Homo sapiens: one gene and its partner. The protein of the gene in region 1 interacts with the protein of each later gene in a biochemical or structural test. Each region holds a gene or a part of one and is shown on either strand. Other genes may lie near its edges.

Region 1 (16,552 bases):
AACGGTTTTCTGGCCTCTCTTCTGTTTCCTTGTTTCACAGTTAGTTTACAGTTGCTTTTCTCTTCGCCCTGTGTCTTGTCTACAAGTAGTTTTACTGAAACAAATCCAGCCCGAGCAAATTGACCTGGAGCTGGTTTCTTTCCTGGCCCACGGGGCTTGCCACCCCAGTGCCCCGTCAGCTCCTTCTGCAAAGGCCCTCATGCCGCTGCTTCCTCCGTTGAGAGAGCTCAGCCTCCAGCTGTAACTCCTGTATCTAGAACTGCAAACAGCTGCGACTGCTTAAAGTCAGGGTCCCACTTCGGAGAGAACAAGGGACTCTGTGTTTCCCACGCGCCCCTGGCTCCTCTAAGGTGGTACACTGAGAGCCATGAGGGTCTGTCTGACCTTGGCCAGCTGCTCGGCGGGCAGAGGGCCGGTGGATCTCATACCTTTGAGACAGGGTAGGGGGAGAAGTGACTATGTCCAGAGAGGGGGTAGCCATACCCCAGGAGGACAGGCTGTCTGTGATGGGAGGGCAGGAGACAGGCACCCATTGACCCCAGAACTGAGCGTACGGCGCTGCTGGACCTGGCGAGCGTGCAGTTGCAGTCAGACGGATGGGCCGCCTGACACATGGTGCCTGTGTATGCCAGCGTCTAACCCAGGCAGGGACTACAACTGGGGGTCAAGTGAGGAGATGCGGGGTGACTAAGCCGTGCACAGCAGGGCTTGGCACCAGCTGCCACCATTGAGCGGTGCCCCTCCTCTGTGCCAGGCACCGTTGTGAGCCCTTAAGGGACGTGACAGTTCTGTCCCATCCCAAGTGACAAAAGAGGAGATGGCGGCCTGTGAGGTTATGCAGCTGCCAGGGGTCGGGATATGACCCACACAGTCTGTACCAGAGTGGCCCGAAGAACCCGTATGGTGGGTCTACATCAATGCTTCTGCCAGGCAGGAAAGCAGGGACACGAAACACACCATGTGTCACGCCTGCGACCACGTTTATGTTTGTTTTTAAGGTGGGATGGTGGTGATGGGACTGTGGTCTTCTGTATTTTCCAAGTGCACAGATGTCCCTTGGGTGATCAGAGTAACTTTTTAGCCAGAACTTGTTATTTGCACTGCCCTCCTCTGTCGGAAAATGATGCTGTGCTGGTCCTTCTCTTGAGGGCTGTGGGTCACAGGAGGAGATCCCCTGAAGGCTGGGAGGCATCCCTCCCCATGCTATGACCCTGGCATGGTGTGAGCCCTCACCCCCGTGTTTGGAGCACAGGTGCTTTCTCTGGTAGCGTTTTCTTTAAAGCAGGAACTTGGTTTGAGACAAACCTCTCGGATGACTGGGGTGGCTGGGCACGGTTGGGGAGGAGGTCCAAGAAGAGGATCCTTCAGAGCCCTGGGGTCTCAGGAGGACAACCTGAAAGCTGGTCCTACCACGTGCTGCCCGGGGTCCCCGGAGGTTGTGGGAGTTATTATTATTTAAGAAGTTAAAGCTTCAAGGTTCTGAATGCTTGGCTAGGATTCCATTGGTATTAAAAAGACGAAGCCCCAACCCCCAGTCATGGGACAGGATGGGCCGAGGCCTTTCCTCTGTCCGCCTGGCTTCGCTAGGTCCCTCCACCTAGGGTGAAGGCTCAGGCTTTTCCAGTCGGGCGCCAGGACCATGGGCTGCTTGGAAACGCATTCATCTCCTCAGCCTGGGCTAAGATGACACAGACACACAGCAGGCCCTGCTGAAGTCGGGGAGTGGGGGAGGGGCCTCCTCCAGGGCCAGCACTGGTCAGTTGGCGGCTCCAGCCCACAGCGCCCCTACTCCTTCTCCTGCCAGGAGCTGGGCTGAGGAAGCAGCCCCACGTGGCCAGGTCCCTGCCCAGCCCATGCTATGGCAGAGGGACAGAACTGCCGAACCCCTAGACAGGCCCTGCCGCATCCACTCCCATGGTTGGAGCACATGGCCATGACTGAGGCTGAGGAGGAATGGTCACAAAAAAGGTACAGCAGGGCCCTCCTCCTGGAGGCATTTTCTGGGAAGCCATGTGGGGGATGGCCAAGAGCTCTAAGACCGCTGAGATCGCTGCACCCGCAGCCGCACCTGTGGACAGTTCCCACGGTCACCCTTAGAGCAGCTCAACTGCTGAGAGTGAGGCCTGGAATCAACCCCGGGGTTGTAGAGTAGAACAGGGTTAGGTGAGCCATGATAGAACCTGATAGAATATTCTACAGCTGGCAGAAATAGTGAGTTAAAAGTAGCTAAAAACAGGCCAGTCGCAGGGGCTCACACCTGTAATCCCAGCACTTTGGGAGGCCAAAGCGCACAGATCCCGTGACCTCAGGAGTTCAAGACCAGCTTGGGCAATATGGCAAAGTCCCATCTCTAACAAAAATACAAAAACGTACCTGGGCATGGTGGTGCGCATCTGTGATCCCAGTGACTTGGGAAGCTGAGGTGGGAGAATCACTTGAACCCAGGAGGTGGAGGTTGCAGTGAACCAGGATCACACCACTGCACTCCAGTCTGGGGGACAGAGCCAGGCTCCATCTCAAAAAATAAAAATAAAAAGGCCGGGCACAGTGGCTCATGCCTGTAATCTTAGCACTTTGGGAGGCCGAAGTGGGTGGATCACCTGAGGTCAGGAGTTTGTGACCATCCTGGCCAACATAGTGAAACCCCATCTCTACTAAAAATACAAAAAATTAGTGGGGCATGATGGTGCGCGCCTGTAATCCCAGCTACTCGGGAGGCTGAGGCAGGAGAATCGCTTGAACCCAGCAGGCAGAGGTTCCATTGAGCCAAGATTGTGCCACTGCACTCCAGCCTGGGTGACAAGAGTGAAACTCTGTCTCAAGAAAACAAAAATGTATGTGAAAATGCATGTCCATGTGCAGTATGTATTTACATGTTAGTGATTATACATATAAAACACCTATTTTCAGGTATAGAAAAATATTGATAGGATACAAATTAATCCAAAGTGTTAAGAAAGTATCTCTGTGTGATGGGGATTCCATTGATTTGGTTTCTCCTTTTTGCTTATCTTTATCTCCTATTTTCTCCATGATGAACATGTATTAATTGTGTAGGGAAAATCAAACCACAGCAGGGTGAGCTGCCGCTGGCTGGAGAGCCGGGCGCCATCTGGCTGGGGCTGCGCCCCGTCCTGAAAAAACCAAACGTGCAAAGGGAACCCTCACCCAACGCAACAAACTATTGAGGATGATCTTTGTAAGAATACTGAATGTTTCACTAGGGTAACATTCTTTTTTTTTTTTTTTTTTTTTTGAGACAGAGTCTCGCTCTGTCTGTCGCCCAGGCTGGAGTGCAGTGGTGCCATCTCAGCTCACTGCAAGCTCTGCCTCCCGGGTTCATGCCATTCTCCTGCCTCAGCCTCCTGAGTAGGGGGGACTACAGGCGCCTGCCACCACGCCTGGCTAATTTTTTGTATTTTTATTAGAGACGGGGTTTCACCGTGTTAGCCAGGATGGTCTTGATCTCCTGACCTCATGATCCGCCCGCCTCGACCTCCCAAAGTGCTGGGATTACAGGCGTGAGCCACTGTGCCTGGCTCACTAGGGTAACATTCTTAATATCAAAGGAAATCATACAAGTCCATAAGACCACTAAAAAATTCCCAGTGGAAAATGGTTAGAGAAGCTACAAAAGATTCACAAAAGAATAAGTGAGACAGTTGTCACTACTATCACGAATTGTAAATTATAAAAAGATGCACATGGCTGGGTGCGGTGGCTCATACCTGTAATCCCAGCACTTTGGGAGGCCGAGGCGGGTGGATCTCCAGGTCAGGAGTTCAAAACTAGCCTGACCAATACACTGAAACCCCGTCTCTACTAAAAATACAAAAATTAGTCGGGTGTGGTGGCGGGCGCCTGTAGTCCCAGCTAGTCGGGAGGCTGAGACAGGAGAATTGCTTGAATCCAGGAGGCGGAGCTTGCAGTGAGCCGAGATTGTGCCACTGCACTCCTGCCTGGGCAAGAGAGTGAGACTCCGTCTAAAAAAAAAAAAAAAAAAAAAAAAAAAAGACACACATCACCACCTTCTCCTTAATGCAGGCTAATCTAGACCTAATACAGACCTAAGGTCGTGATGACATCCTCGGTGTCCTGCACGCTGCTCCCCTCCTGGGTTGGGCGCAGGCAGCGCAGCTCCCTCACACAGCACCTGGGGCAGGACCCAGAGCAGCTCTGCAGAGTGGCTTGGCAGCGTCTTGGGAGATTTGCCTGGGCTCATGGGTATCCCATGGCATCCTGCAGGTGACACTGGAAATGTCAACAGGGACACAGGTCCAGGTGTGTGAGATATTTCAAACAGCAACACCTACAGAAAGGAATGTCCAGTCCAGGGGAAATGACAAAACTTGCCCTGGCACATCCACCCCATGGGATGTGGAATAACCAGCAAAACGGAACGCTGCCTCAGTTTTAGCAACATGGGGAAATTCTCAGATATGTGATTGTGTGACAAATCAGGGTGTAAAGTTGAACACAGCATGACCTGGATTCAGGAATAAAACTCTCCCCTCTTGACTGTGGTTATCCTGAGCCCCAAGATTAAGAGGGACCTTGATGCATAAATTTTAACACTTCTTTCTTTCCCACAATAGAATATCATCACAATAAGCCAGGACATAACTTAAATATTAGAAAAGAAAGGAAAACACCCAGGCCCTAATACAGAAATCAGCCAAGGACATTCACAGACATCAGAACAGCAATTACCGCAACACGTGTCAACCAACACTCAACCTCAGTGCTCTTCGTGCAGGATGGATTTCTGGTTTTGTTAGGTTTTGTTTGTCTTTTTCTTTTTTTTTCTTTTGTTTTCTTGACAGGGTCTTGCTCTGTCAACCAGGCTGGAGTGCAGTGGTGCCATCATGGCTCACTGTAGGCCAGATCTCCTGGACTCAAACCATCCTCCTGCCTCAGCCTCTCAAAGTGCTGGGATTACAAGTGTGAACCACTGTGCTGGGTCCCTAAGGGTTTTAAAAAATTATTTATTTATTTAGAGACAAAGTCATGGCTGGGCACAGTGGCTCATGCCTGTAATCCCAGCACTTTGGGGGGCTGAGGCAGGCGGATCATGAAGTCAGGAGTTCCAGACCAGCCTGGCCAACATGGTGAAACCCTGTCTCTACTAAAACTGCAAAACTTAGCTGGGCACAGTGGCTCATACCTGTAATCCCAGCTACTCAGAAGGCTGAGGCAGGAGAATCACTTGAACCCAGGAGGCGGAGGTTGCAGTGAGCCAAGATTGCACCACTGCACTCCAGCCCGGACGACAGAGCAAGACTCCATCTCAAAAAAAAAAAAAAAAAAAGACAGAATCTGCCTCTGTCGTGCCCAGGCTGGAGTACAATGGTGCCATCTCAGCTCACTGCAACTTCTGTCTCCTGGGCTCAGGCAATCCTCCCTCTTCAGCCTCCCGAGTAGCTGGGACCACAGGCATGTACCACCACACCTGGCTAATTTTTGTATTTTTGTTAGAGATGCTGTTTTGCCATATTTCCCAGGCTGGTCTCAAACACCTGGGCTCAATCAATCCTCTCACCTCAGCCTCCCAAAGTGCTGGGATAACAGGTGTGAGCCACTGTGCCCGGCCTAATTGTTTTTTTGGGGGGGACAGAGTCTCACTCTATGGTCCAGGCTGGAGTGCTGTGGTGTGATCATAACTCACTGCAGCCTCAGTCACCTGGGTTCAAGCGATTCTCCTGCCTCAGCCTCCCAAGTAGCTGAACTAGAGGCACGCACCACCACGCACAGCTAATTTTTAAATTTTTTGTAGAGACAGGGATCTCACTTTGTTGCCCAGGCTGGTCTCGAACTCCTGGGCTCAAGCTATCCTCCCACCTCTGCCTCCCAAAGTGCTGGGATGACAGGCGTGAGCCACTGTCCTGGCCTGGCCCTTGACTTCTGTGGTGGAAGGTGGACTGGAGCCTCACCAAGTCTCACTCGAGTTGCGGAGAACAGACAGGAACAGGGACTTGCCTTCTGAGCAGTCTGTCTACCAGACACATGTCCTCCATCATACTCCGCAGTGCTAGGGTGGGCTATTCTTATCCCTGTTATGCAGATGAGGAAGTAGAAACCTAGAGAGATTGAAGCACTTGCCCAAGGCCAGGCAGCAGGTGAGAAGGTGAGAAGGCCATAGAAGCTTGCTTTCTCATTTCCCCTGCTGACTGCTGCATGGGGGGACAGGGCTATTGAGTACCCAGGAGTTATTTTGATCAAATGTGATAAGATGACAGACACAGAGACAACCGCCTTTGAAAGAGGAGTTTATTACTCACAGTTCCCAGGAGGAGGGGCACGTGGGGAAGCACCCAGGGCCAGTCAGGACAGGGAGGGGGTGAAGGGAAAGGGTGGGCAAGAGCCTTTATTGCCATTTTCCAGGCAAGGCAGAGGAGGCAAGCTGAGCAGAATTAGAACTGGGTCATTTCAGTGGGCTCTGGGCTTGGGGGTGGTATCTAGCTAGCTGGTACCTGGCCTTGGGGTGATTTAGGGCAGGGGGCTAGTGTTCAGGAATGCAGGAGCCTGATGAAAGGAGGCAGGTGGGACTCATGATGGTTGCTCTGCATATCAAAGGTATGCTCAGCCTGCACGGTGGCTCAAGCCTGGGATCTCAGTACTTTGGGAGGCTGGGGCCAAAGGATCTCTTGAGCCCAGCAGTTTGAGACGACAGTGAGCTATGATCATACCACTGCACTCCAGCCTGGGTGACAGAGTGAGACCCTGCCTCAAAAAAAAAAGAAAAAAAGAAAAAATAAAGTAAATAAGGCATACTCAGAGGCAAGTGGTCAGCTGTCTCTAGGAATTAGCTAACCCTGGGAGGGGAGTCCCTCTCTAGGTCCACGAGACCCCAAGATGTCAAAGCACCACAGATGAGAACACGATGGGGCTTGGCACGGTGGCTCACGCCTGTAATCCCAGCACTTTGGGAGGCCAAGGCAGATGGATCATTTGAGGTCAGGAATTCAAGACGAGCCTGGCCAACATGATGGAACCCTGACTCTACTAAAAATACAAAAATTAGCTGGGCGCAGTGGCAGGTGCCTGTAATCCTAGCTACTTGGGAGGCTGAGGCAGGAGAATTGCTTGAACCCGGGAGGTAGAGATTGCGGTACATCAAGATCGTGCCATTGCACTACAGCCTGGGCGACACAGCGAGACTCAGTCTCAAAAAAAACCCCCAAAAAACAGGCCAGGTGTGGTGGCTCATGCCTATAATCCCAGCACTTTGGGAGGTTGAGGTGGGCAGATCACGAGGTCAGGAGATCGAGGCCATCCTGGCCAACATGGTGAAACCCCATCTCTACTAAAAATACAAAAAATTAGCCGGGCATGGTGGCATGCACCTGTAATCCCAGCTAATCGGGAGGCTGAGGCAGGAGAATCGCTTGAACCTGGGAGGCAGAGGTTGCACTGAGTCGAGATGGCGCCGCTGCACTCCAGCCTGGGGGACAGAGCAAGACTGTGTCTCAAAAACAAAACAAAACAAAACAAAACAAAACAAACCCAAAAACAAAAGACACCATGAATGAAGAAAGCCTCCAGGAGGGGAAGTTTGCAGGTGCCTAGGCGTGTCCTTCAAAACTCTAACCCTGCTGGTCAGGTCATTTTTCTCAGGCCCTGAGAAAAGGAAATCCTTCCTGGTCTAAGTGTTACGAGCACGTTCAGTTCAGATTAAAGCAATTCTCTCATTTCAGTGCAACACCTACATTACTTTCCAGCTCTCTGGGGCCCCCATGAAGGAATGTTCCTGCCCCACACCCCCAGCCTGGGCCCCGCTCTGCTGCTGTGTGCTGGAGTCAGGTCTAGGGGCAAGCCCACAGCCTCTCCCTGTTTACAGCCAGAGCGGAGATCACTGCACGTTTCCAGCGTCCTCTTTGGCGCGGTGCGAGTGAGGGTCCTGCCTTGCAGGGCTGAATGAGGAGTACAGAGGACCCTGGGCACAGGAAGCTGGTGCTGGGTGCCCAGTGTGGGTGCTCTGAGGGCACTGGTGCCCCTTGGCCGCCCTTGCTTGACTCTTTGAGCTTGTCAGTCAGTCCTAAATGTTTCCAAGCTTCCTGGGGCGCTTGCAGCATGGGGCACCTAACCGGTCCCCAGGGCAGTTCTCCGCATTCTCCCTCTAACCTGGCTCCATTCTTTATGCCTTCACATCACGTGGGGAGCGTTACTCCCTGCCTCAGTTGGTTCACACTGCAATGGCAAACCACCACAGTCCAAGTGGCTTATAAACCACTATTCATTTCACAGGACGGTGCTGGCAGATGCCGTGTCTGGTGAGGGCCACTTCCTGGTTCATAGACAGTGCCCTCTTCCTGCATCCTCACATGGGGGAAGCAGCAGACAAGCTCCCTCCAGCCACGTTTTTTCTTTTTTCTTGTTTCTTTTTTCTTTGAGACAGGTTCTCAATCTGTCGCCCAGGCTGGAGTGGAGTGGTGTGATCTCAGCTCACTGCAGCCTCAACTTTCTGGGCTCAAGCAATCCTCCTACCTCAGCCTCCCAAGTAGCTGGGACTACAGACACATGCTACCACAACCGGCTAAGTTTTTGTAGTTTTTGTAGAGTCAGGGTTTTGCCATGTTGCTTAGGCTGGTCTCAAACTCCTGGACTCAAGCAATCCTCCCTCCTCAGCCTCCCAAAGTGCTGAGATCACAGATGTGAGCCACTGTGCCCAGCCAGCCACTTTTCTGAGGGCATTAATCCCGCTCATGAGGGAAGCAGCCCTCATGACCTCATCTCCCAAAGGCCCCACCTCTCTAAAACCATCGCCTTGGGGCAAGGACGTCAACATATGGACTTTGGGGGAACACACATGATATGATTTGGCTCTGTGTACCCACCCAGATCTCATCTTGAATTCCCACATATTGTGGAGGGACCTGGTGGGAGGGAATTGAATCATGGGGGCAGGTCTTTCCCGTGCTGTTCTTGTGATTGCGAATAAGTCTCACGAGATCTGACGGTTTTATAAGAGGGAGTTTCCCTGCAGAAGCTCTCTCTCTCCCTGCTGCCATCCACGTAAGACGTGACTTGCTCCTCCTTGCCTTCCTCCATGATTGTGAGGCCTCTGCAGCCACGTGGAACTACAGGTCCAATAAACCTCTTTTGTTTGTTAATCGCCCAGTCTCACGTATGTCTTTATCAGCAGTGTGAAAACAGACTGATACAATGCACATTCAGACCATAGCACCCCTCCTCTGCAGCCCATCTGAGCAAAGGCTTAGTTCTGGCAGCACGCACCTTGGGCCATTGCCCAGTAGAGCCTCACCCTTTTTTATATTTTATTTTATTTTATTTTATTTATTGTGAGATGGAGTTTCACTCTTGTCGTCCAGGCTGAAGTGCAATGACGCCATCTCGCCTCACCACAACTCCCGCCTCCCAGGTTCAAGCAATTCTCCTGCCTCAGCCTCCCGAGTAGCTGGAACTACAGGCGCCCACCATCACACCTGCTAATTTTTGTATTTTTTGGAAAGATGGGTTTCACCATGTTGGCCAGGACGGTCTTGATCTCTTGACCTCGTGATCTGCCCTCCTCAGCCTCCCAAAGTGCTGGGATTACAGTCCTGAGCCACCGAGCCTGGCTGAAACCACACCCTTTAAACCTCTTACCGTTGTGGGTGTGGTCTTCCCCACCCTCTGCTCCTCTGGCCAATCCTGTCCTGTACAGCCTGACTGTCCTGTACTGCCTGACTGTCCTGCACCGCTGTGGCCTGGGAGGCATGCTGCCCCTTGCACCTGCAGGCACCTCACAGGCTTTGGTGAGGGAGCACACGAAATAACCCCTCTAGTCTGTCAGGTGAGAGCAAGGATCCAGTGGCCACATGGCCTCAGATTGGATTCTGGCTTTGTTACCTACTGGCTATGAGATTTGGGGCTGTCACCCCTCACATCCTCAAGGGCTCCCTCCATAAAATGGAGACAACAGTGTCTGCAAGCTAGTGTTGCCATAAGGATGAAATGTCATCATGGACAGAGAGCATTTTGCATAGAGATCAATAATACATATTTGAAAAATCCCCAACATTTAGAAACAAAACAATACACTTCCTAATAACCCTTGGATCCGGGAGGAAATTAAGAGTGGAGACAATCTTGAGCTGAATGAAAATGAAAACACAGCACATTGAAATGTGCAGGATTCAGCTAAAGTGGTAATTACAGGGAGAATTATAGCAATAAAATGCCTATTTATAAAGGAAAAGAGATCTTAAATCAATGATTTCATCTTTCACCTTAAAAAACTAGGAAAAGGCCAGGCGCGATGGCTCACGCCCATAGTCCCAGCACTTTGGGAGGGCGAGACAGGTGGATCACGAGGTCAGGAGATCAAGACCATCCTGGCTAACACAGTGAAACCCTGTCTCTACTAAAAATACAAAAAATTAGCCAGGCATGGTGGTGGGCACCTGTAGTCCCAGCTACTTGGGAGGCTGAGGCAGGAGAATGGCATGAACCCGGGAGGTGGAGGTTACAGTGAGCCAAGATCGCACCACTGCATTCCAGCCTGGGTGACAGAGCGAGACTCCACCTCAAAAAACAAAACAAAACAAAAACTAGAAAAAGGGGCCGGGTGCATTGGCTCACGTGTAGAATCTCAACACTTTGGGAGACCAAGACAGGTGGATCACTTGAGGTCAGGAGTTTGGGACCAGCCTAGCCAACATGGTGAAACCCCATCTCTACTAAAAATACAAAAATTAGCTGGGCGTGGTGGCACATGCCTGTAATTCCAGCTACTTGGGAGGCTGAAGTGACAGAATCACTTGAACCTGGGAGGTGGAAGTTGCAGTGAGCTGAGATGGCACCACTGAACTCCAGCCTGGGTGTTCTCTATCTCAAAAAAAAAAAAGAACTAGAGAAAGGGCGGGGAGCAGTGGCTCATGCCTGTAATCCCAGCACTTTGGGAGGACAGGGCGGGGAGCAGTGGCTCATGCCTGTAATCCCAGCACTTTGGGAAGACAAGGCGGGTGGCTCACTTGAGCCCAGGAGTTCCAGACCAGCCTGGGCAAATGAGGCAAAAACCCATCTCTACAAAAAATATTATCTGGGTGTGGTGGCACATGCCTGTAGTTCCAGCTACTCGGGAGGCTGAGGTGGGAGGATCACCTGAGCCCAGGAGGTAGAGTCTGCAGTGAGGCTTGATTATGCTACTGCACTCCACCTTGGGTGACAGAATGAGACACTATCTCAATTTTTAAAAAATGAAGAAACTAGAAAAAGGGAACACATTGAACCAAATTAAGTGGAAAGAAGGATCTAACAAAAATGAGAGCAGAAATTAATGAAATAGGGCCATGCACGGTGGCTCATGCCTGTAATCCCAGCACTTTGGGAGGCTGAAGTGGGCGGATCACCTGAGGTCGGGAGTTCAAGACTGGCCTGACCAACATGGAGAAACCCCGTCTCTACTAAAAATACAAAATTAGCCAGGTGTGGTGGTGCATACCTGTAATCCCAGCTACTCGGGAGGCTGAGAGAGGAGAATCGCTTAAACCCAGGAGGCAGAGGTTGCAGTGAGCCGATATCTCACCACTGCACTCCAGCCTGGGCAACAGAGCAGAGACTCCGTCTCAAAAAAAAAAAAAAAAGAAAGAAAAAAAAGAGGGTGGGGTCTTCCGCATTTCCTTTTTTCTCTTTTTTTTTTTTGAGACAGAGTTTCACTCTTGTCACCCGTCACCCAGGCTGGAGTGCAATGGCGGGATCTCAGCTCACTGCAACCTCCACCTCTCAGGTTCAAGTGGTTCTCCTGTCTCAGACTCGCGAGTAGCTGGGATTACAGGCGCCCACCACCAAGCCTGGCTAATTTTTTTGTATTTTTAGTGGAGACGGGGTTTCGCCATGTTGGCCAGGCTGGTCTCGAACTCCTCACCTTACGTGATCCGCCTGCCTTGGCCTCCCAAAGTGCTGGGATTACAAGCGTGAGCCACTACGCCTGGTTACGCATTTCTTTTTAGGCTCATTCCTGGGTATGTCACCGGCCCTATGGCGATTGTGAACAGCACCTGCAGATATTTGAGGGCGTGCGCAGCCAGGGTTCCCGCTCTGGGCAGGGGGCACAGCGAGGTGACTCACGGGTAACCACAGGTGGCCACGAATGACTGCTAGAAAGTGGGAATTTTAGGGGAACAGAAAACGGAGAATAGCGGGGCGCACGGGGAGGCTCTGGAACCTGGGCGAGCGGAGCGGCGGACGCCGCAAATGCGGAGGGCGGGGCAGGGTGGCCCCTGGCGGGTGTCTCCACCTCTGCGGCCAGGCCCCCCAGCGCAGCTGCCCTGGCCCCGCCCACCACTCCCAGAGCCCGGGGTTGGGTCCCAGGTCGCCCTCAGGAGCCAAGGCCCCGCCCACCACGCTCGGCCCCCTCGCCTCAAGCCCCGCCCACAGTTCGGGTCCAGACCCAGGCTCCGCCCCCTTCCCCCGCCCACAGCTCCAGTTCCCTTCGCAGGCCGTCTCTCCACGGGAGGCCCCGCCCCCCACCCTCAGCCCCGCATCCGGCTGAGTCCTCACCCCAGGCCTCGCTCGCCGCTGGAGACCGCGCTCACTATCCGAGGAGGACCCTCCTCTGCCCCGCGTCCAGCTTTAGTCCCCGACTGCGTTCATCGCCAAGGGCCCGCCCACTGCCTTAGGTCGCGTCGCCAGCCTTGGGTCCCGTCGCCAGCCTTGGGTCCCGTCCCCGGCTGCACTCACCGCGAGGCCCCACCCTTAGCTCTAGTCCCCGGTGTCGCCCACCGACGAGGCCCCGCCCCAAACTCCAGTCCCGGGCTGCGCTCACCGCCGTGGCCCCGCCCCCAAGCGCCAGTCCTCGGCTGCGCTCACCGGTAGGCCCCGCTCGGGTTCCGCCGAAGCCCAGCCCCCGCAGGTCGCCCCTCCGACGCCGGCGCGCCGCAAGGGAGGCCAGCTCGCTCGCAGTGGGGAGGTCGCGGCTCCAGTCCTCGCGTCCCCGCCGTGGTCCCGGTGCCTGTCCCATCCCGCGGGCGCGGCCGTTGCGGGCGGCGCGGCCCGGGCGCGCGCGGCGAATCTGCGGCTGCGAATCGGCTGGAGCGGGGCCTCGCGAGAGCGGCGAGGCCTGGGCGGCTGGGCCTGGGCGGGCGGCGCGGGCTGCTCCGGAGGCTCGGGTGGCTTGAGAGTCTTGGGAGGCTCCGGGCGCTGCCCGCGCGGTCGCCGGCATGACGGGCCGCGTGTGCCGCGGTTGCGGCGGCACGGACATCGAGCTGGACGCGGCGCGCGGGGACGCGGTGTGCACCGCCTGCGGCTCAGTGCTGGAGGACAACATCATCGTGTCCGAGGTGCAGTTCGTGGAGAGCAGCGGCGGCGGCTCCTCGGCCGTGGGCCAGTTCGTGTCCCTGGACGGTGAGTCCCGCGGGCTGGCGCTGCGCGGATTTCTCGGTGCGGCTTAGGCGGGCTGGAGGCGGTGACGGCGCGGCCGGGACCAGCGCCTCGGTACCGCACGCTCTGTCGGGGCGCGCGGTTCTGCGCCGTCTGGGCGCGAGTGTGGATCCCCTTGGCGAGAATGTAGACCTTCTTCGCGCGCCTGTGGACCCCCGTGGCGTGCGTGGACTTCCTCGACACACGCGTGGGCCAGGGCAGCCAGCACAGGGAGGGTTGAAGAGAGCCTGGGGAGCCCAGAAGGCCCCTCAAGCTGCCCCTCACTGTCACTCTCTGTGCCTGCAGTTTTGTTTTCAGCAATGTCTGGTACTTAGAATCCGATTGCTGCTGCCCTTGGCCTTGGTGGTTACCGGGCGGATGCCCTAGGGCCACTCAGGCTGCTGCAGGCCTCGGAGGGGACGTTTCAGTGATGGGCAGTATTGCGGGCTGGGGATGGACCCCAGCCTGTGGAAGGAGCTGGACTGTGGCCAGTTTCAGGTGGTTGTGAATAGAGCTGCTAAAAGGATTCATTTGCAGCTCTCTGTGTGAACATACGTTTTCATTTCTCTGGGGAACTTAGCTGTATGTGTAACTCTATGGGAAACTGTCATGAACTGTTTTGTGATGTGGCTGTGCCATTATGCATTCTCACCAGTTGCCCCACATCTTCACCAGCACTTGGTGTTGTCGATGTTTTTATTTCGGTTGTTCTAACAGGTGTGTGGCATCTCATCATAGTGGTATTCTGTATTTCTCTACTGGCTAGTGATGTTCAACCTTATTAGGGTGCTTATTTGCCATGCCCGAATCCTCTTTGTTGAAATGTGTGCTCAAGTCTTATTTTTTTATTTATCTCGAGACAGGATCTCACTCTGTGGCCCAGGCTGGTGTGCAATGGCCCAGTCATGGCTCTCTGCAGCCTTGAACTCCTAGGCTCAGGCAATTCTCCTGCCTCAACCTCCTGAGTAGCTGAGACTACAGGTGCATGCCACCATGCTGTGATCATTTATTTTATTTTATTTTTAGTAGAGACAAGGTCTCTATGTTGCCCAGGCTGGTCTCAAACTCCTGGGCTCAAGTGATACTCCAGCCTTGGCCTCCCGAATTGCTGGGATTACAGCGTGAGCCACCACACCCTGACTCTCATTTTTTATTTGGGTTGTTTTCTTATTGTTGAGTTTTGGGAGTTCTTTGTGGATTGTAGTTACAAGCCCTTTGTTGTATATGTGATTTTCAAAGCAGAAGTTTTTTTTCTTTTGAGATGGAGTCTTGCTCTGTTGCCCAGGCTGGAGTGCAGTGGCTCGATCTCGGCTCACTGCAAGCTCTGCCTCCCAGGCTCACGCCATTCTCCTGCCTCAGCCTCCCGAGTAGCTGGGACTACAGGAGCCCACTACCATGCCCGGCTAATTTTTTTTGTATTTTTTAGTGGAGACGGGGTTTCACTGTGATAGCCAGGATGGTCTCGATCTCCTGACCTCGTGATCCGCCTACCTCGGCCTCCCAAAGTGCTGGGATTACAGGCGTGAGCCACTGCGCACGGCCTCAAAGCAGAAGTTTTAACTTTTTTTTTTTTTTTGAGACAGAATCTTGCTCTGTGGCCCAGGCTGGAGTGCAGTGGCACAATCTCGTTTCACTGCAACCTCTGCCTCCCAGGTTCAAGTGATTCTCGTGCCTCAGCCTCCCAAGTACCTGGGATTACAGGCGTGCGCCACCTCACTTGGCTAATTTTTGTATTTTTAGTAGAGACAGGGTTTCACCCTGTTCGTCAGGCTGGTCTTGAACACCTGACCTCAAGTGATCCGCCTGCCTCAGCCTCCCAAAGTGCTGGGATTACAGGCGCGAGCCACCGCACCTGGCCTAAATCTGTGGTCCATCTATGTTTTGTATAAGGTGTGCTTTGTAGGCTGAGGCTCATTGTTTATCTGGAGGTCCCCTTGTTTCAACACCGTTTGTTGAAAGACTGAAGGCCTTTGCTCCCTCGGCTGTGCTCACTGGGCCCCGTCCGTGCAGGTCTGTCTCTGGGCCTTGTGTCCTGCCCTGTTGATCAGGTGCCGTTTTCCTTTGTCAGCATCACACGCTTTTTTACTATACCTGTTATATTGTCCTGAAATCAGATATTGTGAGTCCCTCAACCTTTGTTCTTCCTTTTCAAAGTTGTTGTGGCTATTAATTTCCCTTTCTCTTTTTAATTTTAGAGTAAGTTTGTGCATCTCTGCAGGTCACATATTCTTACCTGAAATGCTTGGGACCAGAAGTGTTTTGGATACCAGAGTTTTCTGATTTTGGAATATCTGCATTATAATTACTGGTTAAGCATCCCTAATCGAAAAATCTGAAATCTGAGATGCTCCAGTGAGCATTTCCTTTGAGCATCGTGTTGATACTCAAAAAGTTTCATGTTTTGGAGCATTTATTTTTTATTTTATTTTTTTCTTGAGACGGAGTCTCGCTTTGCTGCCCATGCTGGAGTGCAGTGGCACTATCTCGGCTCACTGCAAGCTCCGCCTCCTGGCTTCACGCCATTCTCCTGCCTCAGCCTCCCAAGTAGCTGGGACTACAGGCGACCGCCACCACGCCCGGCTAATTTTTTGTATTTTTAGTAGAGACGGGGTTTCACCGTGTTAGCCGGGATGGTTTCGATCTCCTGACCTCGTGATCCACCTGCCTCAGCCTCCCAAAGTGCTGGGTTTACCAGCGTGAGCCACTGCACCGGGCCGTTTTGGAGCATTTATAATCTCAGATTTTTGGATTTGGGATGTTCAACCTGTACAAAAGTCCTGGTGGGGTTTTCATTGGAATTGCATTAAACCTCTTGATATATTTAGGGAGAGCTGACATTTTTTCTTTCTTTCTCTTTTTTTGAGACAGAGTCTCACCCTGTCACCCACGCTGAAGTGCAGTGGCGCGATCTGAGCTCACTGCACCCTCCGCCTCCCGAGTTCAAGTGATTCTGCTGCCTCAGCCTTCTGAGTAGCTGGGACTGCAGGCACACGCCACCACACCCAGCTAATTTTTGTATATTTTTTAGTAGAGACGGGGTTTCACCACATTGGCCAGGCTGGTCTCGAACTCCTGACCTCGTGATCCGCCCTCTTCGGCCTCCCAAAGTGCTGGGATTACAGGTGGGAGCCACTGTGCCCAGCTGACATTTTTTCTATGTTGAATCTTGTAGTCCATGGAACACAGTGTATGT
Region 2 (15,896 bases), on another chromosome or scaffold:
TCTGTCTCCTTGCCTGTCATCTTCACACAAACCTGGTAGAATTTCTTGGGTATCCAAAGATCATTGGCCAATGTATTCATCTTTTTTTTTTTTTTTTAAGAGATAGGGTCTTGCTTTGTTGCCCAGGCTGGAGTACAGTGGTGTGATCATAGTTTACTACAGCCTCAAACTTCTAGGCTCAAGTGATCCTCTGCCTCAGCCTCCCAGGTAGCTGGGATTACAGACATGTGATGTGCAACCACACCGGGCTATTTATTTTTTTGTAGAGACAAGGTCTTTCTATGCTGCCCAGGCTAGTCTTGAACTCCTGGCCTCAAGTGATCCTTCTTCCTTGGCCTCCTCTGAAGCACTGGAATTACAGGTGTGAGCTACTGTGTAGAGCTTGTTTTCATCTTTATTGAAGCTGGTGCCCCAGTTTATACACTCGTCTTTGAAAAATGTCTGAAAATCACAACCTCACAGCCACTGGAGGTTGGCCCAACCACCTCCTCCCATGCTGGGTAGTACTAATTTTCTACCTTATTAATTATAGTTCAATAAAATGTCTCTACCATTAAAGTGTTAGGAAATTTACATATGTGATCTCTAAGCATCCCAACAAAGTAGGCATCATTACTCCCACTTTGCAGAACTGGGAGTAACTGAGACTCAGAGAAGGTAAGTGTGTTATCTAAAATGATACAGCTTGTAAAAGGACTATGAATCTAAGCCTGACTGGCTCTTAAACCTTTATTCTTTTTCACTACAAATTTAGGTCCCCATTTCAACTCTCCATGGACCAGTTGCTGAATAGATTATTGCTCATTTCTGTAAAGGTCTTGGACCCTTATACTGCCTCTTAGACAAGTTCCTGGGGCCATGTGTCCTTATCCAGACACATTCTAATAATTCAGTTGGATCTCCAGGTGAATAGATTGTTTGAAGGAACAAAGATAGAGGGAAGTTTGAGGGGGGTTGAGCAGGGAAGCCCCCAGGAGTTAACTTTCCTGAGTGTCCTAAATAGGACTAAAGCCCATATCACAGCAACTCAAGAGGCCAGGTTAAAACCAGTAGCTGTTTTCACATCGATTGAACTAGGGCCTCTTCCCAAAACTTATTGTTTAGGCTGAGAAGACACCTCTGCAGATGAGTCAGGCTCCATGGACACTCACCTGCAGCCCTAAAAATCCTTAGACTTTGCTGGGATCCAGAGGGAATGTGGCTATGAAATCACCATCAGATTCACCCCAACAATTAGTGGCATGAAAGAGAGATGAAGTAGGACTGTAAGATGGACCTAATTATCTAGAATAGAGAAACAATGTATGCTATCAAAACAAGCAGAAAAGGAGCTAATTTCCATGTAGCTTGGCCTTCTATGCTGTAGTTAGTCATTGTCTTTCCTTTAGCTCCCACAGCTGCCCCAGAACTTGTGCACCTATGTCTGAAACCCAGAACTAAGAACCTGGACACCAAGATTGGGACCCCATATCCCCACAATAACTGGAAACAGCTAATCCAGTCTCCCATTTGCCTGCCACCAATTGTCTCAGGATGACTTATAATGTAGACGTGCCTGGATCTAGGCAGCTGGATTGGGTGACTGGGCATATTAGCTGTTCCAAAATATATGTTAAATTTACTTGTTGAATTTAGGTTACCCATCAGTAAAATCACTAACAAGTAAAGAAATCACCAAGTGGCATCTAATGAAAAGGATCTGTGTAATCAGCTCTTTAAAAAATTAAGAACTCAGCTGTCCCTTTTCTTCATTATCTGGGCAACCCTTATCCCTACAGTTATTAGCGAAACAAAACAACAATGCTGGCCCAGTTATCAGGGAGAAGCTTGTTTTGTCTCATTTGTGATATTGGGTCCTAGCTGCTAATTTTCTCAGCGATGGCAGAAAAAGGTAATTCAGGTCGGCTGTGGTGGCTCACGCCTGTAATCCTAGCACTTTGGGATGCCAAGGTGGAAGGATTGCTTGAGCTCAGGAGTTTGAGAGCAGCCTGGGCAAAAGGGCAAGACCCTGTCTTAATTTTTTTTTTAAAAAAGGTCATTCAAACCAGATTAGACTAAAATAACACAAAGAGCCACATCACTGTTTATATGAATCTCACAAGCTGAGTTTCTTAGGAAAGGAAGGAAACCTGGAAAGAGAAGTCAAAAGCCTACAGCAAGGCAGAGCTGTCTCCAGGGTACTGGGTACTCAGCTTCCCTGCACTTCCACCTGGGGAAGGAAAGGATAGGTATGGGAAAGTCTTCTGCTGTGGTGTCATGCAGTGGCCCTAGTCAGATCTGTCTTCTAGCCCTGATTTTGCCACTTAGTAGTATTTAAGTAAGAGCACTTCACTCCTACCATTAAGACTCTCCAACAGCTTCTCATCTCAGAATGAAATTCTATCTCCCTTCCTTGGACTATACAACCCTTATGAACTGGCCCTGCCTTAACTTGTACTGCTTCCCCAGTTCAACACTGCCCCTTTTCCTCCTTCCAGATAATGAGCTGAGTCCATTCCCTGGAGTTGGAAGGTTCTGCCTCCATCTATTCATTCAGGTCTCAGCTTGTGATCACCTCCTCAGGTCTTCTCCAACCACCCTATCACATCTCAGTCACAATCACATCACCCCATCTACTTTGCTTCCCAGCATTAAAGCAGTATCTGAATTTGTATTTACAAAAATATTATCTGCCTATCCCTATTAGAACGTAACCTTCTGCCGGGCGTGATGGCTCACGCCTGTAATCCCAGTGCTTTGGGAGGCTCAGGTGGGCAGATCACAAGGTCAGGAGATCGAGACCATCCTGGCTAACACAGTGAAACCCCGTCTCTACTAAAAATACAAAAAATTAGCCAGGTGTGGTGGCGGGCACCTGTAGTCCCAGCTACTCGGGAGGCTGAGGCAGGAGAATGGCGTGAACCCAGGAGGCGGAGCTTGCAGTGAGCCGAGATAGCGCCATTGCACTCCAGCCTGGGCGACAGAGCGAGACTCCGCCTCAAAAAACAAACAAACAAACAAACAAACAAAAACAAAGAAAGAATGTAACCTCCATGATGGCAGGGGTCTTGGTCTTGTTGACCACAGTACCCCTTGTACTTGGAACAGTGCTTGAGACATAGATTCCTAGTATTTTTTTTTGTAAAGACAGGCTCTCACTATGTGGCATAGGATGGTCTTGAACTCCTGGCGTCAAGCAATTTTCCCACTTTCGCCCCCCAAAGTGTTGCCATTACAGGCATGAGCCACTGTGCCCAGCTAAAATATTTTCTTGAATGATCAATACTGGCAGTGGGACCCGGAGCATGTCACTTAACCTCTGATTCTGTTATAAAATGCAAATATCCAATTGCCCCCAAATTGTTATGAATAACATATTAAGAGGACAAATGTAAAAAGGCCAGGCAGCTAGTAAGTATTCAACATATTTTGGTATATGACCTACTCATCAATCTGTAACCATCTCTCTATCTCCCCCTCCCTTTCAAGGCCACACTGGCAGTTCATGTTAACCTTTCAGTGGGAGCAAAGAGTGTGTAGTAGAGTGGTGGTGACTGGAGAGGGTGGGTGGTATAAATTGCAGTATACTTTCTTGTGAGTCTCATGGTACCTCTTTGGAACACTTATAGGTAGATATTTGAGTCATCCACAAAGACGTCAGAGTCAGGAACCTAGCCCACTCATTTCTAGGCTTTGGTTTATAAGCTGGTATTTTTGAACAGGAAATAAGGCCTAAGCCAGGTCTAGTTTATATATGCTGGGCAGTTAACCTATAAGGTATTCAAAATCAAACATACCGGCAAGGTGCGGTGGCTCATGCCTGTAATCCCAGCACTTTGGGAGGCTGAGGCCGGTGGATCACCTGATGTCAGGAGTTCGAGACCAGCCTGGCCAACATGACAAAACCCCGTCTCTACTAAAAATACAAAAATTACCCTGATGTGGTGGTGTGGGCCTGTAATCCCAGTGATTTGGGAGGCTGAGGCATGAGAATCGCTTGAACCCAAGAGGTGGAGGTTGCAGTGAGCCAAGATCGCAAAACTGCACTCCAGCCTGGGCAACAGAGTGAGACTCTCTCAAAAAAAAAAAAAAAAAAACAAAACAAAATCAAACATACCAATAACAATACTGAAGGGAACACCTTGGGGTGGGATAGAAGCAAAGAACAAAATGTCCTCTCCAGCTTTTTTTTCTCTGCAGGTGGTTTTGACCTGTCTTTAAAAGACAGAGAAAGGGTTCAGTCAGGGCCCATGTCTATACAAGGGCTATTAAACAGCACTTATACTAAAATGAAGCTTGGAATGTAATTTCTATTTAGCAGATTAGACTGATTTTCCTGTTTAAATATATAGATGCTTCTGGTCCCCAAAAGTGGGGAAAGGGGATTAATTCAGATGCTGAAGAAGATAACTTCTCAGTGCCTACTGCAGCAAGGCAAAAAAAAGATAGCTTCATTATTAGGGGAAGGTTTCTTTTCCATCAGAGCGATTGGGCAGAATTTGGGCTTAGTTGCTTGCTGAGTTGGTCTCTTGTTTTAGGAACAATCTTGTACCTTCGTGCCAACAGACACTGTTCCATTATTTTCTTTCTTCCAGGAAAGGGGAGGGCCAAGGCAAAACAATGAATGAATTTTCCTGAATTCTTGCCTTCAATCTAGATGGGGTTACACCCAAGATTATTAAAAAAAGAAATAAAAAGAAAAAAGAAAGGCTGAGTGATGTGCTTCTCTGGCATCTTCCAAGTTAGCAGCTGGATTCATGTACTACAGATAGGTTGGAGTCACCCACGCTAGAAACCAACATCTGTCCTCTACTACCAAGTAGGTTTTCAGATTATTTTGTTTGTTTGACATAGAGATAGGGTCTCACTATGTTGTCCAGGATGGTCTCAAACTCCTGGCCTCAAGTGACCCTCCTGCTTCGACCTCCCAAATTGCTGGGATTATAGGTATGAGCCACCATGCCCAGCTGGTTTTCAGATTCTTAAAAAGGCCACAGAAAGTGTTATGTTACACTCACACAGAAAGTACAAACCAAGTCAAACGAATCAGCTTTCTCCAAAACCTCAACTCCAAAGGCTCTTTCTTCAGAGGACTGTTAATATTTCACTCCATGTTGCCAAACAAAACAAAACAAAACACACTTTCAGAAATGACATTAGAGACTTGGTGTTGGAAAATACTTGCTTTCGTTCTGATCTGGTAGCCTTTATTCTCATATTGTCAACTTTTCTCCTTCCACCCCAGAAAACTAACTTGAAACTCACTTAAACATATGCTATCACTTAATACTTAACTACAAAGTGGAAACAGATGGTAAACCCAGGTTAGCTGTTCCTAACAAATGCCAGGAATATTCAAATACAGCTATTTCAGATGAACTGCTTGGAAGTTATTTATTTGTATTATTTTAACATATATTATGAACTGAACTAAGAGAAGCTCTATGTAAAAGTTTGGGTGCTCATTCCTGCAATAAATAAATATAACTGCTATTTATCGGCTGCTATATAACGCTGCAGTTGAGGTGGGCTTTCCTAACTTCTAATCACAGGATCCTCAGCCAGCCAAGTTCTTTCGCTTTTGCTAATTCTTAATAGATTTCAAACTTTGGTATGGAGTGTATGTATGTATGTATTTATTTATTTTTTTGAGATGGAGTCTCACTCTGTTGCCCAGGCTTGAGGACAGTGGCGCAGTCTCCGCTTGCTGTACCCTCCGCCTCCCAGGTTCAAGCAATTCTCCTGCCTCAGCTTCCCGAGTAGTTGGGATTACAGGTGCACGCCACCACACCCGGCTAATTTTTTTTTTTTTTTTTTGTATCTTTAGTAGAGACGAATTTTCACCATGCTGGCCAGGCTGGTCTCAAACTCCTGACCTCAGACGATCTACCCGCCTCGGCCTCCCAAAGTACTGGGATTACAGGCATGATCCACCACGCCAGGCTGGGAGTGTATTCTTTTAACCGCAAAAGGGGACCCGGCACAGTGGCTCACGCCTGTAATCCCAGAACTTTAGGAAGCCAAGGTGGGTTGATTACGTGAAGTCAGGAATCCGAGTCCAGCCTGGCCAACATGGTGACACCCTGTCTCTACTAAAAATACAAAAATTAGCCCAGTGTGGTGGCACACGCCTGTAGTCCCAGCTACTAGGGAGGCTGAAGCAGGAGGATTGCTTGAATCCAGGAGGTGGAGGTTGCAGTGAGCCAAGATCACACCATTGCATGCCAGCCTGGGCAAGAGTGAGACTCTGTCTCAAAAAAATATAATTTTTTTTAAGGGAAGGAGAAAGGTGGTAGTTTTGTAAGCTTGGACAGCTTTGATGCACAATTAAAAGAATGAGGCTTTAGTTCTGGCGTGGTGTAGTTGAGCAGATAAGTTGTGCCTATGCACATTCATAAGCGAACTTTTAAAAGTCAACCCCATTTGCATCCTACCTAATCACATTCCTCCATATTGTTCTAGAGCTGCACTGTTCAATATGGTAGTCACTAGCCACTTGTGGTTATTAAGCATTTGGAATGTGCCTTGTCCAAATTGAAATGTATTATAGGTGTAAAATACTCACCAGAATTTGAAAACTCAGTATGAAAAAAATGTAAATATCCCACTAAAAATTTTTATATTGATTACATGTTTAAATATTTACTGGGTTAAATGAAAACATTATTAAAATTAGTATCTTTACACATTACCTTTTGTAATGTGGCTGCTAGAAAATTTAACATTATATGTGGTGATGCATTATATTTCTACTGGACAGTGCTATTCTAGAGCATTTGGTGCATACAGAAGACAAATTGTGAATTTTAAAAAGTAGGTACACCACAGTCACCAACACTGTCCACTGAGAAACTCAGCGATATTTTAGACTTCAGGTCCCCACCCTACCTAAGACACAGGGAAGAGAAACCACAGACCAGCAGAATGCCAAGGATGTATTAATAGTAGGAGCAGAATACACATTTATCTCCTGAGGAAACAAATGAGATTCAGATGAGCCCTTATTCACCCATGAACTTTTACTCCTCAAATACCTACTAGATCTAGCAGTTACAACGTATTTGAATGGAGATGGATAATTACAGTATGTACATTTCTTAAGGTTTTGGTACTATTTTATCTATTTTTTGTTTTTGAGACAGAGTCTTGCTCTGTTTCCCAGGCTGGGGTGCTGTGGCATGATCTCAGCTCATTGCAACCTCCGCCTCCTGGGTTCAAGCGATTCTCCTGCCTCAGCCTCCCAAGTAGCTGGGATTACAGGCATACCCTACCGCGTGTGAACAAATCAAACAGGGTTGCTTTTCGCAGTGGTTCATAAAGTTGTTTCTAAAAGCTATTTAAACAAGTTCCAAATATCTTCTCAGCAATAAAGTTCTTGGAATGCTGATGGCTGCCCAAGGCAACTTAAAGTGCATTTTCTTGCATACCAATAAGCTGGCTGGCATATATATACATATACACACACGTATATATACAGACGTGTATACACACACACGTATACATATATATATATATACACACATATATATATTTTTTGTTTGAGACGGAGTCTCACTCTGTCACCAGGCTGGAGTGCAGTGGCGCTATCTCGGCTCACTGCAACCTCCGCCTCCCAGGTTCAAGCGATTTTCCTGCTTCAGCCTCCCGAGTAGCTGGGACTACAGGCGCATGCCACCACATCCAGCTACTTTTTGTATTTTTAGTAGAGGCGGGGTTTCACCATGCTGGCCAGGATGGTCTCGATCTCTTGACCTCGTGGTCTGCCTGCCTCGGCCTCCCAAAGTGATGGGATTACAGATGTGAGCCACTGCACCCGGCAGGGCATAGTTTTTAAAAAGCTGCAATTTGAATCTTTCTAGTCATTTCATATTTCAAATTGTCATAATTGGGGCCAAGAGCACACGTAATAAGGGGCTGAGATGACCATTTAACAATTCCCCAATTTTTGTTTTTGTTTTCACTGTTAAAGAGGAATTTTTATTAAAGCAAGAATTTTATAATCCAAATTACGTTTCCTTGCTCAGTTATTAATTCTGTTACTTAAAACAGAAGTGACATTTTGAGCTATTCCACAGTAAAGAATTACAAAATTAAAGAAAGGAATGTTTTATATTTTTGTACTTTGCTGAAAATTCTTTTTCCCAGGGTCTATAAAACACTAATTTGTTTCTATATTTTACTATTTTTTTTGTGTTTTTTGTTTTTCAATCAATTAATCTAGGACTAGCATTATGTTTGCTAGACCTGGCATTTGCTCGGTACATACGGTTCAGTTTCCTTCTTTTATATTTTGATATTTTTTTCCATATTTAAGTTTTTCGATGTTTAGATATTTTTCTTTGGTGAAGCACAAGTTTCTTTTCGTGGTCCCTGATCAATTTTAAACAGTTGGAACACCGGTGGCACTGTTAACTGCTTTCTGGGCAGTCTCTTTAGCTTGGTGGGCTTGTAGTACAGCTACAGCTTCATCAACCTTAGAATGGAGTGACTCTGGAGACTTGAGCATATGAAGAAGTTCTGAATTATCAATCTCCAACAACACGCCAGTGATTTTACCGGCAAGAGTAGGGTGCATGGCTTGAATAAGAGGAAACAGCCATTCACCCAACATTTGCTTTTGCTCTTGAGGGGCAGATGCCAACATGGAAACAGTCAAAGGTTCCTGACCTTGTACATGAATAGCAGGCTGTTGCACTGTAACTTGTGGCTGTGCATTAAGATGTTGCTGAGGATTGCAAACTCCCGCAGCATATTTATACTGTGGAACGGTGCGGACAGCAGGAGTAGCTGCAGCAGCTGTAGCTGCAAGACGTGGACCCATTGTCTGTGTTGATGAATTCACCAAATTTTTATTCCAGTCTATTTTGAGACTTCTGGAAATAAAACACCTTGATACCGTTTGCCCTAGGGCTGATTACAAGGTACACTTAAACTGCTAAAATGATAGTTCATGTTATTCATAGTGCTAAGGTGTATCTGGTAATGCCCAGTGCTTTACTGAATTTACAGTATATTACCATTAATCCTCCAAAAAACAAAAAAACAAAAAACAATTTGCGGCCGGGCGTGGTGGCTCACGCCTGTAATACCACCACTGTGGGAGGCCGAGACGGGCAGATCATGGGATCAGGGGTTCAAGACCAGCCTGGCCAACATGGTGAAACCCTGTCTCTACTAAAAATAGAAAAATTAGCTGGGCGTGGTGGCGGGCGCCTGTAATCCCAGCTACTCGGGAGGCTGAGGCAGGAGAATCGTTTGAACCCAGAGGCAGAGGTTGCAGTGAGCCAAGATCGCACCATTGCACTCCAGCCTGGGCGACAGGGCGAGAATCCATCTCAAACAAACAAAAAAATAAACAAAAACCAATTTGGCCTTTTTTTTTCTTGGCAAACCAGCCAAAACTGATGTTTTTCCTAAGAAATCACACCTCATAAGCAATCTAGTCTAGGGCTTGGGATAAATACTAAGAAACAAATTAGAAGTCATATAGTAGTGGGATTAAGAGCACAAGGAAGATGACTGCATCAAAGATGATTGCAAATAATCTGCTACTTACTATGTGACCTGGGCAAATTACCAAACATCTGTATCTCAGCTGCATTACCTATAAAATGGGTGGTATACTTTCACCTCACAGTCACTGTGATGATTAAATAATTTATATAGAATACTTAATACAATGCCTGACAGCAACCAGAAAAGTTTAGCTAATTTAATTATAGTTAGTAATCCATGCAAGGCCTTATAGTTAAATCTTGTCTAAATTCAAAGACCTCAAAGAAACTGGACCCTTGCTTTCTTATTTTTTAAAATGACCATTAAGAGTTCAGTTTATAATCCACCCAGATTTATCGAATCCTTTCTTCTAGGTATCTGGGGGTTTTTTTGAGACAAGGTTTTGCTCTGTAACCCAGGCTGGAGTGCATCAGCATGATCATGGCTCACTGCAGCCTTGACCTCCCGGGCTCAAGTGATTCTACCACCTCAGCCTCCCAAGTAGCTGGGACCACAGCTGTGTACCACCACACCTGGCTAATTTATGTCTGGATCCTTTTCACTGACCTAAGATGCCTGTGCTTTGGCTTCATTGTCTAGAGCACTAACTTTTTGATGGTGGTATTGAGTTTCAAATAATAAAATCATGAATGACACTAAACTTAAAACCTTGGGAAGGTCATGAGTTGAAGAGCTGACTACATCAAAACTATCCTGAGAAACCGAGTTATGATGCCAATGACAGATAGCTCTGCAGGCACCAGAGGAAATGAAACTATAATACAATACACCAGGTGTCACAATGTGACGATTTACTTGAAACAAGGACATCTTAGTGGCTTAAGCAATATGTTTAAGAGATTAAGATAGAAATGGAAGACAGAAGTACAAGCACACGTGCACACCTACAAGTTTTTGTATATATACAGGGCAAGCAAGGGAGTGGTCAGAGCAATGGCGAGAATACAAGAAACAGCAAAGATGCGCCTACTTAAAATGTCATTCACATAAATCTTTCCAGGATTCTTGTATTGGAATATAATCTTTTATTTTACCACTCAACGATTAAGCCATTCAACTACACAACACAGATAAAACGGAAGTTATAACATATAAACCAGTACCTGCCCACACTCATAGCAGTGAGGGGAATAAAAATCAAGGTTGCACTGTAATTCCATGACTCTAAAAATCAAGTCTATTTGACATTGGTTTGAAGCAACAGAACCTTTATAGCAGATTCCCCTTTTTAAAGAAAAACCCAAGGAGAGATGATCAAGCACAAATGATCACTTCATGCATTTTATTGATAGTCTATATTTTAAATCTGCAGTATGACATCTTACATAGGGAAAAAAGCTTCTTCCTAAAAGATAACTATTAATAATCAAACCAGCTTTAATATGATTGACCTTTCAAGGTCTTGTTTTGCTTTAAACAAGTTAACTTTTAGCAGTTGTAAAGCACTGTACAAAAGAAAACTGTGTACATTCTCAAAATTTAATACAGGGCTTCCCAACCAGGAGTCTGCTGGATAGGTATCGGAGAAGGGTGTTATGTTCAGGTTTAAATTGAAAGAAAATGAGAAACCAGATAAAGCAAGCCAACCAAATTAACTTCACTTTGTGCTCCTCTCTGCTTTTTTGAGTCTCTCCCGAAGGTCAGGAAGCCCTGGTATAACAATCACTTTAGTCTTTACAGAACATACATCTATGTGCTTTGTGACCAAAGACATAAAGGCAGCCTTTGTTACTGTTCCCCCTCCAAACCCCTTCAGGTTCTTATAAGCTTCAGAAAGCTTTCCAAGATTGCTGCCCTGTTCTTTGTATGAATCCAAGTAAACAACTATACCAAAGCAGCTCTTCCTGGGAGAAGATAAAACAGGCACAGATACATCACCAGGCCAACTGCGTACCTACTCAACTTGATACCTGATCACATGGCCCTACATCCTTAAAAGCAGCACCAGGGACAAATGGAGCTATCAAGAGGTAAAATCCAAACACTGGACAGTTAAAACACATACAAACCAGTTAAAAGAACATTAGTAATGGGGCACTAAATAGAGTTAAGGCTGGACAGCTGGTTCAACCATACCTTGGTATTGAAATAATTCTGCAAGATGAGGAACTTACAGAGGAACCTTGAAAGAGGCACCATGATATGACAGGGTTCACTTTCACTGCATGTCTTTAAGATATCTACTACTCAGCCCAACTGACCATAAAGCAGCTCGTGGAACTTTAATAAACAAATCCTAATAAAAATAAATAATTTTTAGAATGTTGGAGGGTATGCCTATTTCCTTCAGATCTGATCAAGACATGAGAATTATAAAACCGATACAAACTGTTCTGTGATTATCACTTGACAGTTCTAACACTGTTATACAGCTCAATTCTATGCTGCAGCCTTTAAGATACAAACTGGGGTTACATGAGATCACTCACTTGTTAGAGAAGTATCAGATAAATTTTAGAACTGTTCCAGTTAAGGAAAATAATTCTTAATTTCATAATCCTAAAACTTTTTCTAAAAATTTTTGCAGGGCAGGTACTTAACTCATAGCTGTTTTAGTTGATTAAAAAATCTGATTTAAAAATAAGTAAGGCTGGGCGCAGTGGCTCACGCCTATAATCCCAGCACTTTGGGAGAATGAGGCAGGCAAATTGCCTGAGCCCAGGAGTTCAAGAACAGCCTGGACAACATGGCGAAACCCCATCTCCACAAAAAATTAGCCAGGCAATGTGGTGCATGCCTGTAGTCCCAGCTACTTGGAAGGCTGAGGTGGGAGAATCACCTGAGCCCAGGAAGTCAAGGCTGCAGTGAGCTGTGACCATGCCACTGCACTCCAGCCTGGGTGACAGAGCAAGACCCTGTCTCAAAAAGTAAAAAATAAAATAAAATAAAAATAAATAAGTGACATACTAGTTCCTCGGATCTTTTACTTTTTTCCAAATGAAGTATGCTGTCAATTTACATTTTTCATGTTTTTTCAAAAGCACACAATTTACTAGTTAACTCAATGAATTACAATACTGTTATTGAATATAAACATACTGAAGAATTAAAGGGAAAAAAACACACCTGACACTTTAACATGTGCCTTAACAATCTTGCATACTAAGGTACAGAATACTTCAGAAAGTAACAATTAGCATAGTCTTATAAGACTAGGAGAATAAAAGTGCCCTGCAAACATGGCTTCTATGTACTTAATATGGTAAAACATGTGACAGGGAAGCCTGTAAGGTAAAACTTAAAAAAAAAATCAAATAAGGCAGATTATAATTTTTTTTGTTCGCAAAAGAACAAAGGAGAAAAGGGGAAGAATAAAAACATTCTCCATCTTTAAAAGAAAAAATATTAACAACCATAAGGTGCCACTGTATTTTAGCAAGCTGTAAAAATGGCCTTTTAAGAGGAATTTTGCAATCTTTACCTCCCTATCATTTGGGTATTTTGGGAACTGACCGAAAGTCATGGCTGATGCTTCACCCATTTCATGTCATGGACGCCTGGGAAGCAGGTAGTTAAATACAAAGCATATTATGTGATAACCCTTCATAAATATAATTTGAGACACTGACACTAGGAGAGGATACTTGGCACAGAAAAGACATGTTATGGGGCGGGGGACACATTACTTGAGGCAACACTTACAGCCAATCAGTTTCCTAATCTTAAGGTTTGGATGAATTCCAATCGTTTTTAAAAACTGTGTGTGTACACACACATATTTTATTTCCTGGTGCTAAAGGTCTTATAAACTGTACAATTACCTACATTCCAACACTAATGTGAACACTTTTCTCAATCCCCACCTCCATTAACACCATTAAGGTGTAACTAACATGTTCTTTTCAGAGCAAATATTCCAAATTAACAAGGTGGCTCATCTTCTATAGTGTTGATACAAAGTCAGCAAACTTTTAACTTAACTTGCTCAATTTTGTTTCTAATAGTACTAATAAACCTCAACTTTGGCTGGACATGGTGGCTCACGCCTGTAATCCCAGCATTTTCGGAGGCCGAGGCAGGCACATCACTTGAGGTCAGGAGTTCAAGACCAGCCTGGCCAACACGGTGAAGTCCCCATCTCTACTAAAAATATAAAAACTAGCCAGGTGTGGTGGCATGCGCCTGTAATCCCAGCTACTCGAGAGGCTGAGACAGGAGAATTGCTTGAACCCAGGAGGCAGAGGTTGCAGTGAGCCGAGATCGCTCCATTGCACTTCATCCTGGGCAACCAAGTAAGACTCTGTCTCAAAAAAACAAAACAAAACAAAACAAAACAAAAAAACCTCAACTTTGTCAGCTGCTCAGAGTTAAAACAATTCAAATGTTTCAGACTAGAAGTGAGTTTTTAAAAACATCTGAAATATTCAAGAAAATTTGGGTTTTGGTACTTTTCCTTATGCTCTGAACAATGTGAACTCCCAACATTGTTTATCCTTGTTCCTCTTACTGCATGAAGTTCAAACTAGGTCTTAAAGACAACTTTTCTGTACTTAAGAAAAAGTGCAAAGATAGAAAATGAAATGTAAGGTGTTTTGCAAGAAATGCTCCCTCGAGAATGGTGTTTGGATGTGGGTGGGGGGAAAACGATTTTTGTTCTCCATTGTAATCTGACACCTACGAATGACCTTGTCTTCAATGTCCACAACACTAGTAAGCATGTAATAATCACGGACATCGCAAGATTAAAAATTAAGTAGCAAATTCCACTAAAACACTTGTATTCATTCTATACAATCGAATGGAAATCCGTGAGTGCTACTGAAAAAGGTGTTCACATGCACATGTCCAATATGTGCATTCCACTGAAGGCTAAAAGCTTAAAATTCTATTTCCAGTGTTTATGAATAGCTTCAATATCTACATTCATAGCCAGCATTCTGCTTGAGTTACCTCTTACTTTAATACTTCACAAATGAGTAAGTACGTCTTGGGAGATTAGGAAGGTACCTGTTGTCAATAACTTTCTCTTATGCTTAGAATGTGCTGCAATTGTTTTTAAACTATTTAAAATGAACACCCCTATAATAATGAAACACTTTATGCCAAGAAGAAAATTGATTTGTTTTTAGCCAATCAAGACTACCCTGCAGATCTGAAAACTGTAGATTACATCCTTAGGAAAGGAGAAAAGGAGGCTCACAAATATAAAGGAATCCTGACTTTTACACGGACAAATTTTTAAAAAGATAAAATGTATTACATAAGCGCCATAAACAGTGAAATCTGCTTATATTAAAAAAAATAAGTGAAGCTTTGTTTGGACATTATTTCCTTGCAAGAGCAGTACATATCCTTAGTAAACAACTACCATATTTACAAGTTAATTTCCTTGATACTTAGATAGGATTGAAAGCCAGAAGAAATCATGGAAGAGTGAGCTTTGAAATAATCTTTACAGCTAAGTTGGTAACAGTGAAGGTACCCAGACAATTCCTAAAGCAGACTTGTTTATTTTGTAGAGTATTTGACTACGTCTGGGTAGCTAGCTTGCTTTGATAAAGGCCAAGGACAAGTTCAATCCCTATTTTGGCCTGTTAAAGCTTTTCCCAGAAGAACAAATATCTGCTCCATAGTCATTCTAATCCTAACCCCAGCTAGTCTCAAAAAAGAAATTAGGCAAGAAGACTGGGGTTATCATGAAGTTACTCTTACTACTAAGAAACCAACATAAAGTGCATGTCCATAGATAGCGAGTCAGCAGTCTCATTTTCATATATGGGCAGCACAATTAAAATTTGAATTTCAAATAACCCAACATGACTTTCAACAAAGGATAAAAATCCCTTAATCTTCAACTGGTCTTTAAATTTGAGATGTTAGGACTGTGTTAGAGATAGTAATGAAATATGATCAAGTGTGCACTGGTACCTTAAATGACAAATCTCAAAAACAACACAAATTCGAGACTTTCCTATTAACACACACATGTGTACCAACTGCAATTCATATGCTAAAAGTGGTTTTATAGTCTCTTTCCTCCATTTTTTCATTTTTGAGGAGCAGACTTGTAAATTTAACTTGTGCTAGGTAGTAGTGGTTTGTTTTTCTTAAACCAAAACTCTGCCAAACTTGCTGATCTTCTGCTTCATCTACTCAGGTAGAATACCAGGTCAAGCTGCTGCTGTGGCTGCTCTCACCATATGAAACCAGTTTGTGTCTGCATTATTACTGTCTTCAGGAAAACTTTAAATTCTTCAGTTTTCTTTACTCCTCCCATATTTCACTTCCTGCCTAAATCCAAGTTAAATTATACAATTTCCACTGGTCTTCAACACGGTTTAATTCTGCACTGTCCTTTCCTTTGCATGTCACAGTAGCTGTTCACACATTAAATATTATAGATATGTTCTGCTCTTGACATCTACACACTTACAAAAGCAGCTTTGTACTTTGTTTGGTGT

The links.
Region 2: the proteins of BRF1 (region 1) and RLIM form a complex in vitro, tested with the Homo sapiens proteins (one study listed by BioGRID).

Annotation. Positions count from the first base shown.
Region 1 is NC_000014.9:105,297,238-105,313,789, reverse strand, and holds the start of BRF1 (transcription factor IIIB 90 kDa subunit), read left to right. Parts: upstream 1-12,788; 5' UTR 12,789-13,160; coding exon 13,161-13,344; intron 13,345-16,552.
Region 2 is NC_000023.11:74,574,729-74,590,624, forward strand, and holds the end of RLIM (E3 ubiquitin-protein ligase RLIM), read right to left. Parts: 3' UTR 8,248-15,896; downstream 1-8,247. UniProt on the Homo sapiens protein: E3 ubiquitin-protein ligase.